2 linked regions of the Homo sapiens genome follow. The protein of the gene in region 1 purifies or fractionates together with the protein of each later gene. This does not show direct contact. Each region holds a gene or a part of one and is shown on either strand. Other genes may lie near its edges. The genes, in order: PBK and LGALS9B.

Region 1 (3,924 bases):
CTACAAAAGCTGTGAGTGAGTCCAGGTAAAGGAGCTGCCAACACATTTCCCACACGCTTAAAAATATATATATATTTTTAGTGAGAAAGCCAGATCAAATTTTTCATCTTGATGAAAAGTATCTATTGAAAATACTCTCATATGTAACCTTCAGCATAAACCCAGGGTTTATGGCTACAAAGGAACATTTTATCATCATAGAAAGTTTCACTGAACAGCACTGCTCTAGAAAGTCTTGCTCCGGCTCAGAAATGACACAAGTCATTTCTTCTGGTAGAACCTTTCAGACGACAGTTTGGAAATCTGCATTTAAAATAAGAAAAATATTTTAAAATGTTTATGCCCTTGCAGATTTAATGTGTTAGTATCTTTTATTAGGATTATTAACTGTTTTTGTTACTGCTTTAGTTTTCAAAGTTGCATAGGTTTTAACCCTGTTTTTTTTTTCTATAAACCTAGTTATATCTTGAAACTTTTGCGCAATGAAGTTTTGCAGGAAATAATATATCAGGTTATTATAAAAAAAATGCCTGTACTGCCTAATTACTCAATTACTTCTTTGGACTGTGTTCTTAAGAATGAAACTATAGGGTCAAAGGGCATAAACATTTTTAAAGGTTTTTCTTATTTTAAATACAGCTTTCCAAACTGTCACCTGAAAGGTTCTACCACAAGAAATGACTTGTGTCATTTCTGAGCTTGAGCATTTAACTATCACTGCAAGACTTTCTAGAGCAGTATTGTTCAATGAAACTTTCTATGATGATTAAATCTCCTAAATCTGCATTGTCCAATGTGGTAACCATTAACCACATGTAGCTTCTGAGCACTTGAATTGTGGCTAGGGTGGCTGAGAAAATAATTTCAATGTTTTAATATTAATGTAAATAGCAACATGCAGCTCATAACTACTGTATTGGACAGTACCACTCCAATGCTTTTTCACCCTCCCCATAATGGTGGCCATGTTCCATATAGTGGCTGTTCCATCAGTATAAGTCCTAAAGGGAGAATGACACAGAACAAGGTGCTAATGGCCATGCAGCTTGAGTAATAAGCCTTGGTTGTTGTAAGTCACTGAAGTTTTTGAGGTCTGTGTTACCACAGCAAAACCTATTCTAACCTCAGTAAAACAGCAGTTACAAGTTCTACTTAGTGTATGAGAGGACATGTTAACCTACATTGTTGCTCATACTAGCAATCTTTTTATTTACTAGCAATCTTGTTACTCCTTCAATAATATATTTACAAGTCAGGCACTATTCTAGAGTTGAGGATATTTCAGTGGACAAGATATACAAGGTTCCCTTCTTAGAGCTTACAAGCCTAATGGAGGAATGGAGAAACGTTTAACAGATAATTTACACAGTGTGATGAGTGTTGATAGCAGATTATCTCATTGTTATTTAGCTTTTAAAACATTAGTAAGAACATTACATATATATTTTCCTAATTGCCATTTTTTTCATTTCTCAACAGTCTCTTCATAATAGAGCTTTTATCTGTTTCTCATTGATTACTAATAACTCTTAATGCATTAGAAATATTAAATATCTTATACATTTATCTCAGTTTCTAATGTCTTAAGCTCCCTGCCCCTCTCCAACCCACTGTGATATAGAATTCTTTTTTTTTAAATGGAGGTACCCATGGCTTTTTAATGATGGTTTCTAGCTTTGGTGTCTTCTTTAAAGTCCTCTCCACAGCCAACATTAAAGAACTATTTATCTACAATTTTTTCTACTGTTACTTTTTCCCCCAATCTTCAATATATGGGGATTCAAGTGTAAGGATAGAAAACAGCTGTGTTTTTTTCTAAAATGTCCAGATAACATCATTTACTGACTAAACTACCTCTTTTCTCACTAATACAAAAATGTCACCTTTATCACACAACAAATTCCTCTATTTGGGAACTATTTCCTGACTCTCATGTTCTATTTTTCTGCCTATTTTGGCATGAGTATCATCGCTTTAATTACTGTAGCTTTATAAAACTTTTTATCTGCTCAGGAAGATTCCTCCTCCTTTCATCGAGTTTTCCCAGCCATGTTTGATTGAACATGTATCCTCAAAGAGGAACTTCAGATTAATTCTGACATGTTCTAGAATAGATCACATTAAGATTATGTAGAATTTATAGGCTATCAAATTCATTCATTTCTGCTTTCTGTTCTTAGGGCGTCATTTTTTTCAATTTCAGTTGAATATTCAACTTAACTTCATAAAAGTTAAATAATGAAAATGTTTCCTTTGAGTAGTTTTGAACATATCAAATAGGGTTTGACTTGTTATATTCTTATATTTTCTAAATATTTTATAAATGGAATTTGATTTCTCTTTTTAGCCAAAAATTATTCGGAAGTGTTTTAAATTCCTAAAAAGTTTGGAGTTTTTGTTTCCTATTTTATTACAAATTTCTAGATTTACAGCATTGATGTTAAGGAATATCACCTATTAGACTATTCATACTTTTTATAATTCGAAGTTTTTTTGTGTGATCTAAGAATATGGTCAATTTTAATAAATATTATGGTGCAGAGGTACTTGCCTTACTATTTACTCAGATCTTTAACATCCTTACATTTGTCTGTTTGCTCTATTAAGCATTGAGAAAAATACTTTAAAAACCCTCATTTTTATTATGTTTGACAATTTATCCTTTTACTTTCTAAAGTTCCCATTTTGTAAGTTATTTAGCATAAGGTTTCACAACAGTTCTATTTTTATTAATGATTACAGACATCATTTATTTATAAAGTCTGTCCATTCATTCTGACTCTTGCCTTCAACTCAACTTGTAAACTTTTACTTCAGCTAGAAATTCAGGCATTTATATGTTCTAAACAGCATTTATTAACCATTTGTTTAACTTCTGTTGATATAAAGAGACAAATTTAAGTATTATTTACTAAATAATATGTTGCAAGCAGAGGCTTTCTCTTGAGGCTGGCTCTTGTTTCTCACCAAGAACATATCTTAAATTCCCTGAGAAGCTATGCAATAGAGAAGAAAGGGCAAAGAGCCAAAGACCAGCCTTCATTAGCACCCCTCTTTTCTGCTTCATTCCAGTTTCTTCTACCAGTTTCCTAAATCTTGTCACTTTACTCATGCTAAATAAACCGCTTTACACAACCTTACTAAATTTTACTTTCTATTCCCAGATGCTTTACTGCTTAAAGATCCCAATCCAGTTAGAAATATTTCCCAAAGATAACTCCAGTTAAAATATATACTAATACTACTACTAATAATAATACAGTAATTTATACTGTACATGTGGCAAGGGAGAAGACTGCAGGCTGACTGGGAGAGAGAGAAAAAAAGGGGACTTTTTACCATATACTTTTTAAAAATAGTTTTTGATTTTTGATCCATGTGGACTTACGTATTTAAAAATGTAAACACTGTATTAAAAACAAAATTTTAAAACTTAAGAGTACAACTTACCAGTCATATTTTCATCCAGTGGTAGAGAGACTCCTACATCACAGATTTTAATTGTTTCAAAATCGCCTTTAATTACAACATTTGAAGACTTTATGTCTCCATGAAGCAGTTTCTTTTCTTGGTGCAGATACTAAAATAGTAAAAAATTTAACACATATGTGCAGAAACACAAACTAATAAAAAAATGTGATAACCTCCAAATATAACAACTTGAACTCCCTTCCTAAACTCTAGGTTTACATTTGTCCAGCGTTTCAAAATTTTTTTTTTTTTTTTTAAAACGGAGTCTCACTCTGTTGCCCAGGCTGGCATGCAGTGGCACGATCTCGGCTCACTGCAACCTCCGCCTCCTGGGTTCAAGTGATTTTCCTGCCTCAGCCTCCCAAGTAGCTGGGACTACAGGCGGGCACCACCACACCTGGCTAATTTTTGTATTTTTAGTAAAGACGAGGTTTCACCATGTTGACCAGGCTG
Region 2 (3,924 bases), on another chromosome or scaffold:
TGGACCCCATGCCAAGCTCCCAGCAAAGTGCCCAGCGCCCTGGCTGGGGACTCAGGAGGCCCAAGGGAACAAAGGGACCCATCAAGGGTCTGCAGGTTCCACCGAGAGGGTCACCAGAGAGTGTCAAGAAGAAGGCATGCACCTCTCCCCACCACCACCATATAACAATGGCCACCATGACCTTTGCCCTCCTGACCACCTTCAGCAGAGCCTCTTCCCAGATGCCCTCCGCAGCCCCGAGCCCCAGCGTAGTTTCCCCACCCATCCCAGGCCCCGTGGGCAAGCACTTTGTCAAATTCTCTCTTCCGCGCCTCTTTAAAGGAGCTATGGGCCATGGTGAGGCATGCATCGTTTTGGAGTCAGGCGGACTCCAGGTCTGAATCCTAACTCTGCTGCTCCTGACCTGAGTGGCCTTGGGAAGCCTATTTCACCTCTCTTTGCCTCAGTTTCCTCATCTGTAAAATAGGAAGGTGTTTCTCCTACTGCATATGATTGATGATTTTGTGAGAAAAAGCCTGTGGTAGAAGAGACTGGCACAGAGGAGACGCTTCACCACTGTCACCCACCCCCACCTTGGTCTCTCTGAGCAAAATTCACAAACTGGTACTTCCAATCTTCAAAGTTTATTCCGAAATGCCTCATATCCGGTGTGGTTCTATAACCTGCATTAAAGCACAGTTCTATCTCATGGCTGATTTTCACATTCTTCAAGTTTTTAATGTCTTCTCTAATATCTCCTTTAGGTCAATTTCCTACACAAATTAAATGCCTAAAGAAGCCAGGCAGGTGATGTGTATGAGTCAGATGGCCAGGTAGGGAGTGGTGGGGACTGTGGCAAAGTAGACGTCACACGCCTCATCTAAAAAGTCAACATCTTCTCAGCACTAACCAATGATTACCATCTGGGCTTAGTATTGGCAGAACTTCCAAATTTTTAAGATGAGACAGAAACCTGAATTTTTTTTTTTTTTTTTTTTTGTAAAACTTTCTAATTTCTTGGGGGAAATCTTTTGTCAAAAAGGATTATGTAAAAGTTCCTGACTGGGCACAGTGGCTCACATCTATAATCCCAGCATTTTGGGAGGCTGAGGTAAAACAATCACTTGAGCCCAGGAGTTTTAGGCCAGCCTGGGCAACATAGTGGGACCCCCATCTCTACAAAAAATAAAAAAATTGGCCAGATGTGGTGGTGCACACCTTTAACCCCAGTTACTTGGGAGGCTGAGGTGGGAGGATCACTTGAGCCTGGGAGGTCGAGGCTGTAGTGAGCCACGATTGCACCACTGCACTCCAGCCTGGGCAACAAAGCGAGACCCTGTCTCAAATGAAACTCCCCAAATTCCCACATTGTAGAGATACACAATGAAATATTTACAATGGAATGAAATCTCTGGATTTGCTTCCGCATATCTGAAGGTGGGAAGAGAAGCAAGCGAGGGAGGGTACAGGATGAAGCAAGATAGGCCTGAGTTGATCATTGTTGGAGCAGAGTGATGGGTGTGTGTTGTTGATGGTACAATTCTCTCTGCATGTTTGAATTTCCTATAATAACAAGTTAAAGTAAACACTGTGTAGGCCAAACAGAAAACACCCACTAGCCAAATTCAGCCTACTGGTCACTGCTTTCTGGTCTGTATTGTTGAGTTATGTGACCACACAGCACCCTGGGAAACCCATCCTAGCTCAGTGTACACACCTGGCACCGTGAAAGCCCCAGGCAATCTGAGATCTGATCCAGATAGTCTCTGCTCCCCATGGATTTGAGGGGGTTGTCTTTTCTTGCCCCTCAGGTCAGGTCTGAACTCTGCCATTAAATACTTTGGTGACCTCAAGCAAATCACAGCTTCTCTGTGTCTCTGACTTCTCTTTCTTGTCCCTGTCTACACCAGCGGTGTGGGGGAAGGAGAGTCAGCCTGATCCAGTTATGGGCCAGCATGGGCTAGGATTGGGAAGCCTGTTGTCCCTGAAACACGTCTGTGGAAGATTTTTCCCCTTGCCTGTTTGTGGCAGCCTGTGATTCCCTCCAGAGCCTTTCATTCTATCATGAGAGACAACGCTGAAAATACACACCCTCCTGGGAAGCATGCGGCCTCCACTCAAGCGTATTCACACCACAGCACCTAGAATTGAAGGCAGAGAGTGATGGACATGGGCTCGCAAGTCCACACAAGGCTTAACTAAGGAAGCCAGGAGGGAGAAAGACCAAGTACAGGTCATGGGGGCAGGACAGGGCAGGCTAATCTCCAAGGCAACAAGTTCCCCAAAAAAGTTCTGTGAGGTTTCAAAATGTCTTAAATGGCACCCCCAATTTCTGAAAAACAAGATTATTTTATTATTTATTTTATTTTATTTTATTTTGAGATGGGTTCTCACTCTGTTGCCCAGGCTGGAGTGCAGTGAGGAGTGTGATCATGGATCACTGCAGCCTCCACCTCCTGTGCTCAAGTAATCCTCCCACCTCAGCCTCCCGAGCAGCTGAGACCAAATAAGTGCAGGCCACCAAGCCATACCCCACTAATTTTCAAATTTTTTTGAAAAGACCAGGTCTCGATATGTTGCCAGGGCTGGTCTTGAACACCTGGGCTCAAGTGATCCTTCTGTCTTGGCCTCCCAAAGGGCCGGGATTTCAGACATGAACCACTATGCCTGTCCTGAAAAATGAGATTTTAAATTGAATATCATCCAACAAACAAGGTTATTCATTGCAGCATTATAACACAAAGGATTATAAAGCAAAGCATTGGAAGGAGCCTAAAAGTCTTCCAACAGGGAAAAGGTGAAATAAATTAGGGTATTTCCATATAATAGAATAAGTTCTGTGTAGCTTTCAAAAGAAAAGAAAAAGAAGACGGAAAAGAAAAAAGAAAAAGAGGAAAACTCTGAGCACCGATATGGAATAATGCCATTTGCATAAAAAGTGGGTAGGGGAAGGCTATGGACTTGCATTTATTTATTTATAGATAAAATATCTCTGGAAGGATTTACAAGAAACTTATAATACTGGTTATCAGTGGGCGACCCCCCAGAAACATCCACATTCGAATCCCCGGAAACTGTGAATATGTTGTAGAAGGGACTTTGCAGATGTGATTAAATGCATAATTTTGGCATGGGGAGATTGTCTTGGATTATACAGGTGGTCCCAATGTAATCACAAAGGTCCTATAAAAGGGAGCAGGAGGATCAAAGTCAGAGGTAAGAGATGTGACAACAGAAGCAAGAAGCTGGTTTTGGGGGTTTTGTTTGTTTGTTTGTTGTGTTTTTTTTTTTTTTTTTTTTTTGAGACAGGATCTCATTCTGTCACCCAGGCTGGAGTGCAGTGGCATGATCTCAGCTCACTGCAGCCTCCACTTCCCCAGGCTCACGCGATCCTCCCACCTCAGCCTCCCAGGTAGCTGGGACTACAGGCATGCACCACCATGCCTGGCTAATTTTTGTCTATTCTTTGTAGAGACACAGTCTCAGTTTGTTGCCCAGGCTGGTCTCCAACTCCTGGGCTAAAGAGATCCTCCTGCCTCAGCTTCCCAAAGTGCTGGGATTACAGGCATGAGCCACTGCACCCAGACAAAGCTGCTGGTTTTAAAGATGGCAGGAGGGGTCATAAGCCAAGGCAGGCAGGCAGCCTCTAGAAGCTGGAAAAGCAAAAGAAACAGATTCTCCCCTGGAGCCTCCGGAAGGAAACAACCTTGCTCACACGATGATTTTAACATCTGCCCTCCAGAATCATTAAGAAAGCAAATTTGTTGTTTTAAGATTGGCCAGCCAAGGCTGCTGTGGAATTTAGATCCGTGTGTCCAGGAAACCCAGGAAAACAACTGGACCTACTTTTGCTCCGTAGGGTGCAGGAGGATGGATTTTTGTGTTGGATTTGTGGTCCCATGGGCCTGGGCTCGCCTCCCAGCTCTGTACACTAGCAATTCTGAC

What was found.
Region 2: the proteins of PBK (region 1) and LGALS9B purify together in Homo sapiens (affinity purification with mass spectrometry; 3 studies listed by BioGRID and IntAct, with this or other methods). This does not show direct contact.

The regions. Positions count from the first base shown.
Region 1 is NC_000008.11:27,817,115-27,821,038, forward strand, and holds part of PBK (lymphokine-activated killer T-cell-originated protein kinase), read right to left. Parts: intron 3,581-3,924; coding exon 3,451-3,580; intron 2,547-3,450; exon of another isoform or gene 1-2,546. UniProt on the Homo sapiens protein: Phosphorylates MAP kinase p38. Seems to be active only in mitosis. May also play a role in the activation of lymphoid cells.
Region 2 is NC_000017.11:20,460,835-20,464,758, forward strand, and holds part of LGALS9B (galectin-9B), read right to left. Parts: intron 1-3,924.